Linked DNA regions of Homo sapiens. The protein of the gene in region 1 purifies or fractionates together with the protein of each later gene. This does not show direct contact. Each region holds a gene or a part of one and is shown on either strand. Other genes may lie near its edges. The genes, in order: SOX13 and MGME1.

The links.
Region 2: the proteins of SOX13 (region 1) and MGME1 purify together in Homo sapiens (affinity purification with mass spectrometry; one large-scale study listed by BioGRID and IntAct). This does not show direct contact.

What each region holds. Positions count from the first base shown.
Region 1 is NC_000001.11:204,110,805-204,114,623, forward strand, and holds part of SOX13 (transcription factor SOX-13), read left to right. Parts: intron 1-2,110; 5' UTR 2,111-2,111; coding exon 2,112-2,330; intron 2,331-3,516; coding exon 3,517-3,628; intron 3,629-3,714; coding exon 3,715-3,801; intron 3,802-3,819. UniProt on the Homo sapiens protein: Transcription factor that binds to DNA at the consensus sequence 5'-AACAAT-3'. Binds to the proximal promoter region of the myelin protein MPZ gene, and may thereby be involved in the differentiation of oligodendroglia in the developing spinal tube.
Region 2 is NC_000020.11:17,988,776-17,991,897, forward strand, and holds the end of MGME1 (mitochondrial genome maintenance exonuclease 1 isoform 2 precursor), read left to right. Parts: intron 1-1,163; coding exon 1,164-1,334; coding exon of another isoform or gene 1,335-1,411; 3' UTR 1,412-2,347; downstream 2,348-3,122. UniProt on the Homo sapiens protein: Metal-dependent single-stranded DNA (ssDNA) exonuclease involved in mitochondrial genome maintenance. Has preference for 5'-3' exonuclease activity but is also capable of endonuclease activity on linear substrates.

The DNA.
Region 1 (3,819 bases):
GCACCTGGGAGGTTTAAGGAATTTTTTTACTGTAGGGATATTTTTACTATATCTGATTTTAGCCTTACATACTTCCCCTAAACATCTAATCCCCATGCAAAAAAAAAAAAATCAAAAAATGTATTTAACAGTGCTTTTCTAACTAGTGCATATCAAAATCACCTGGAGGTCTTGTTAAACCTGATCCCTGGCCTAACTCCCAGAGATTCTGATTTGTGGGAGGGACTTATGACTTTGCCTCTCAAACAAGCCCCCAAGGCATGCTGAAGCTGCTGGTCCTTATACTGCATTCCAACTAGTAGTGGTTTAACAAACACCAGATCATGTGATGTTATTTGGAAATGTGATAAACAAGGAAACAACAAAACACCAGATCGGTGCTTACTGGTGCCACAAACTATTCTAAGTACCATATAAATATCAACTCCTAGTCCTCACGGCCATCCTATAGTGTAGAGACTCTTACCATGCTCATTTTACAGATGAGGAAACTTGAAGTACAGAGCAGCTAAGCAACTTGCCCTAGGTCACTTGGCTAGTCAGTAGCTGAGGCAGGACCCATGCATAGCTGGAACCTGCTGTGTTCCCACTAGAACCCAGAGCGCATCTCTGTGACTTTGGAGGATAGGCATCTGCTGCTCCGCCCAAGCCTGGCATGACCCCTGGAAACCACTCCCTGAGATGCTGCGATTGCTCAGCTCCTCAGATGTCCCAGGCAGTGATGTGACAGGAAAGGAACAGCAGGTGCAGAGTCTCAAGAGGGTCTGCCAGGTATACCAGCTGCTTAAACTAGGAACTGCAAACTCAGATGCCTATGGTGGCCAGACTCTGAGAGATTCTAGCTAGATACCGGAAAATATTTTTCGTAAAGCCAATCATCTCAGTCTGTTATTCCCCCCACCCCCGCCCTTTATTTTTTTAAAGAGATGGGAGTCTCATTAGGTTGTCCAGACTGGCCTCAAACACCTGACCTCAAGTGATGTGCCTTCCTCAGCCTCTTGAGTAACTGGGATTACAGGCATGAACCACCATACCCGGCTATTTCCCCCCGTGTGATAGATGCATGAAGCAAGAAATCATTTACTTTTACCTTATCTCCACTGTAAGAAGAAGACTATATGTCTTATATATAGAAGAATATATGTCTTATATAGTTAATACTTGGTTTCCTTTTTGAGGAGTAGTAGGAGTGTAGAGGCTAAAGTAGACTGGCCTGTCCATAAGAAATACCCATTACTCAATTCCAGCCAATTTTTACCACAAAAACAATTGAGCTAGAAGTTCAAATCTAGATTTTTATGTGTTATCTCTTGATTTTTAAGTATTGGTAACTAATTATAAAAATGCATTTGTAGGCTGGGCGTGGTGGCTTACGCCTGTAATTCCAGCACTTTGGGAGGCTGAGGCGGGCAGATCACCTGAGGTCAGAAGTTGGAGACCAGCTTGGCCAACATGGCAAAACCCCATATCTACTAAAAATACAAATATTAGTTGGGGGTGGTGGCGTGTGCCTGTAATTCCAGCTACTCGGGAGGCTGAGGCAGGAGAATCACTTGAACCTGGGAGGCGGAGGTTGCAGTGAGCCGAGATCGTGCCCTTGCACTCCAGCCTAGGTGACAGAGTGAGACTCTGTCTCAAAAAAAAAAAAATGCATTTGTATACATACAAACATGCACAGACACATGCACACATGCGTGCACACACACACACACACACACACACACTTTCTCTCTCTCGCTGTCGCTCTCCAACTCTGTTGGGCTCAGAAACAGCCAGTCAGTATCTGGCCTCGTTAGTTGGGCCGTCAGTCCACTAGTCCCGTAGTCCCAAGCATTACACAGGCAGCTGCTGCGCAAGGGTAGGCCCACTCTTCTCTAGAACTTTTTGTTTAAAAAGCAAAAAACAAAACAAAAAAGCATGAGGGATACAAGAGGCTTTGCTGATTTTTCTGTGGGTTCACAAGTAAGCTTGCCCTTTCTGTGAGTGTGCCCATGTGACAGGCACCAGGAGGCACTTGGGTGGGGTCAGGGGAGCAAACAGTAGGGTCACTGCCTCTGGGCAGAAGTTTACGACTGGGGACTCACCTCAGCTCACTCTGTCCCTCCCCCAGGATGTCCATGAGGAGCCCCATCTCTGCCCAGCTGGCCCTGGATGGCGTTGGCACCATGGTGAACTGCACCATCAAGTCAGAGGAGAAGAAAGAGCCTTGCCACGAGGCCCCCCAGGGCTCAGCCACTGCCGCTGAACCTCAGCCTGGAGACCCAGCCCGGGCCTCCCAGGATAGTGCTGACCCCCAAGCTCCAGCCCAGGGGAATTTCAGGGGCTCCTGGGTCAGTGTCCCCGCCCTGCCTCCATCCTCACACCCATGCGCTGTACCTGGGCTCTCTGCTCGGCTGGGCAGGCCCACTCCCCTAGATGGCAGCAGATACAGGCAGAAGTGGTGATCCTAGGGGTAAGACGCCATGTAGGGAAGCAGGGAGGCACTGCCAAGTTCAGTCTGAGGCTGGAAGCGGGGTCACCTATCAGAGCAGGACCTAGACTCATGCCTGTACTTACTCGCTTGATAGTGACAGTTCACCTATGTGTGACCCAGTCCTTGCTTCTGAGGACTAGATGGGGAGATGGGACACACATGCTAAAGTTTGGCTTTAAAGTAATCTACCAGATTTTTCAGATGATTTGGGAAAATCAACCTGATTACACAAGCAAGAATTAGGTCACTGTTAAAGATGATACGGTTCTTGACCCTTAAAAAAACAAGAGAATTGAGCTGCATGATTCATAAGGATTCTTGCAGCTCCTAAAAATTCTGATTTCACATATGAGATGTAAAAAGGTGATATATAATTAAAATCCAAATAAGTGAAAATGAGGAGAGTTATGGGCTCTAAGAAAGAATCCAGCCTGGAGGAAGGAGGTGGGGGGTGGGGGCACTGGTGATCAAGGAAGGCTTCCTGGAGAAGTAGAGCCTCAAGCTAGGCCTTAAAGGATGGGGAGGACTTTGACGAGAAGAGGAGTGAGGCAGGCAGTGGGGAGTGTGAGTAACTTTTGCCAGCCCCTACCTGCTCCCCTATGCAGCCCAGCTGGTGTAGTGGGTATGTTCAAGGGAGTGATAACTAATAGCTGACTTTTGGCCCCTGATTGTAATGGCAAATCTCATTCACATGCATTAACTCCCTTGATCCCAGCAACAATCCTGTGACAGAGGAGGTATTAATATTTCCATTTTCAAAAGAGGGAAGTCAGGTTCAGAGCATTTCAGGGACTTGTGTGGGATCAAGCATCGTGTGAGTCACTGAGCCTGGACTGAAACCCAGGTCTTTTGTTTTGAAATCTTCTGTTCTTTTCCTAAACAAAGCTTGGGCAGGTGGAGGCCAAAGGGACCTAGTGAGTGGAGAAGTAGGACTTGGATAGGGCTGGGATCCCTCAGGGTACACATCTTTGGGGTGCCCAGCCCTCCCTGCAGCCTGTCCCCTTCTCTTGGGGGTTATGGTGACAATTCAGTATGTCTTGCAGGACTGTAGCTCTCCAGAGGGTAATGGGTCCCCAGAACCCAAGAGACCAGGAGTGTCGGAGGCTGCCTCTGGAAGCCAGGAGAAGCTGGACTTCAACCGAAATTTGAAAGAAGGTAGGATGTCTGCCCTAGTTAGAAGCAGAGGCCTGAGGCAGGGAGGTGTTAAGACGGTTATTCCTCACCCCTTTGCTGTCTTCCAGTGGTGCCAGCCATAGAGAAGCTGTTGTCCAGTGACTGGAAGGAGAGGTTTCTAGGAAGGAACTCTATGGAAGCCAAAGATGTCAAAGGTGAAGGCCTGTTGGGGG
Region 2 (3,122 bases), on another chromosome or scaffold:
CTTAACGTCTTCCTTGTTCCTTTCCCACTTAAAAAAGCACTTTTTGGCTGGGCACAGTGGCTCACGCACTTTGGGAGGCCGAGGCAGGCAGATTGCTTGTGCTCAGGAGTTTGAGTCCAGCCTGGGCAACATAGTGAAACCCCGTATCTACAAAAAAAATACAAAAATTAGCTGGACATGGTGGCGCACACTTGTGCCAGCTACTTGGGAGGCTGAGGTGGGAGGATTGCTTGAGCCCAGGAAGTGGAGGTTCCAGTGAGCCGAGATTGTACCACTGCACTCTAGCCTGGCCGACAGAGCAAAACCCTGTCTCAAAAATAAATAAATAGGCCAGGTGTGGTGGCCCAAGCCTATAATTCCAGCACTTTGGGAGGCCGAGTTGGGCAGATCACCTGATGTCAGGAGTTCAAGACCAGCTTGGCTGACATGGCGAAACCCTGTCTCTACTAAAAATACAAAAATTAGCTGGGCGTGGTGGTGTGTGCCTCTAGTCCCACCTACTTGGGAGGCTGAGGCAGGAGAATCGCTTGAACCCAGGAGGCGGAGGTTGCGGTGAGCCAAGGTTGTTCCACTGCACTCCAGCCTGGGCAACAGAGCAAGACTGTCTCTCTCCAAATAAATAAATAAATAAATAAATAAATAAATAGCACTTTTTGGCCAGGGGTGGTGGCTCATGCCTGTAATCCCAGCACTTTGAAGGAGGCCGAGGTGGGCAGATTGCTTGAGCCCAGGAGTTCAAGACCAGCCTGGGCAACGTGACAAAACTCCATCATTACTAAAAATAGAAAAATCAGCCGGAAGTGGTGCCCGCCTCAGCTTCGAGGGTGCAACGAGCCGAGATTGTGCCACTGCACTCCAGCCTGGACGATGGGAGTGGGATCCTGTCTCAAAAAAGAAAAAAAAAGCACTTTTCCACCCTCTTCTTGGGCCTTTTTTTTTTTTCAATGGCTCTGTAAGGATCACAGCCCAGTCTTCAATGTTTTATCTGTCATCTTTGTGTTCTTGTGTCCTGGTGCAGTCTTTGATCAACCTACCTTAGAAACTGAGTTAGGAGATATCCTGTAGATTATTTTATACTGAGTTTGCCCTGGAGTAAGAAGGAAACGAACCTAAACTCTGGACCTACTGTAGTGAAACGAGAATTGCCCTGTGTTTCTTCCTAGGTTCAATGTGGCTTAATTGTGGTGGCCTACAAAGATGGATCACCTGCCCACCCACATTTCATGGATGCAGAGCTCTGTTCCCAGTACTGGACCAAGTGGCTTCTTCGACTAGAAGAATATACGGAAAAGAAAAAGAACCAGAATATTCAGAAACCAGAATATTCAGAATAGGGAGCAAGTTGCTATTTGGGAACATTCAGCACCTTCTCACAGTTTGGGAACATATATTGCTGTTTACTCCAGTGTAAAAATGAGGTGCCACTGGATCTGAGTGCTACACGAACACAAGTAGAAGTATTAATTTGTTGAAATGTGTTGTTACCAAAAAGACTGAAAAGCCCCAAAGTCTAGATATAAAGACCTAGACTTCGGCACGCGAAATCCCAGCTATGCTACCTCTTATTTACCTGAAAGGAGGACACGCAGGATGGGCAGTCATGCTGGTGACTCTTGTACTCCCTTGAGGGACATTGGGGGGGGGGGGGCGTGGTCCCAGGCAGGATGCCCAGTCTTTGAGCTGAGATTGGAAGGCAGTGAGGCTGAGGGTGCCAAGATTTCCCCAGGGTTCACCCAGAGGGGAAGGGGCTACATGCCCCCAGCTGTGTGCAGGGAGGACACATCAGCCCACTACCGCTGCCAACACCAATGCCTAAAACTTGTTTCATACATTGGGGTTTTCTATATATTTCAGCTGGGAAAAGCTTACATTTAACCTTTTGAAAAAATAAATACGTGATTAGCCTCAACTAAACATTGCTGACTATAAAGACAGTATATTCACCATGTCGCTGGCAATATGTCATTGCGTAACACCAAATAACCCCCCAGAAGTAGCCAGAGGCCAGTTTGAACATCACAATTCTAAGTGTTTTAGTAACTATTTCTGGCGTGAGTCAACAGATCATGTAGATAGAGTCAATTATTGTTTGTGGAGTTTTTCAGCTATAGGGGAGGGGAACTATTAAAATCCATTTGTTTCTATTCAATAGGTAATAAAAATTAGTTGTCCCTGGGTTTGGGAAACTTAAATGCCCATTACAGCCCTGGGGAAGGGTTTTCTGTCTTATGGAGTGAGTCTTAGCATTTAAGTTATACAGTTGCTGCCTTAAAATAGTAGCCTGCTACAATGACTTCTTTGGGTAGCCATTTTCATAAGAAATAAAATACAAGATATGAGTAATGAAGCTTTGGTTTTGTTTACTTTGTGTGTTTATAGGATAATTTTATAAACCTGGAAATTGTTTGCACTTTTTTTATAATTCAGAATTTTACAAGCCCAATAGCTTTGGTGAGAGTTCTGTGTAAGTGCATAAAAGAAAGCGTCCTCGGCTGGGCGCAGTGGCTCACGCCTGAAATCCCAGCACTTTGGGAGGCCGAGGCGGGCGGATCACAAGGTCAGGAGATCGAGACCATCCTGGGTAACACGGTGAAACCCCGTCTCTACTAAAAATACAAAAAATTAGCTGGGCGTCGTGGCGGGCGCCTGTAGTCCCAGGTGCTCCGGAGGCTGAGGCAGGAGAATGGCGTATACCCGGAAGGCGGAGCTTGCAGTGAGCCGAGATCACGCCACTGCACTCCAGCCTGGGCGACAGAGCGAGACTCCGTTTAAAAAAAAAAAAAAAAAAAAGCCTCCTCACTAAGCCCTCAGCCACGGTCACCTAGCAAGGAAAGCAATATTCAGGTAGGAGATGGGAGGATCAAGGGGGACCTTTGTATTATCTCTATACACTTCTGCATTCATGTGGGTTTTTCTCAAGCTGCAGATACATATTTCTGTAGCCTGTAAATTCCAGTCAAAAATGAAGTGAGGCAATTAAAAGTTGTGCTAGCAGAGTTTGCCACTCTGCTCTAATAAGCCTCAACCTAGAATTTAGGAGGCTAGACCTAACAAAATTTCTTTTTATTTTTCTTTTTTTTTTTTTTTGAGACCATCTGGCTCTGTCAGCCAGGCTGGAGTGC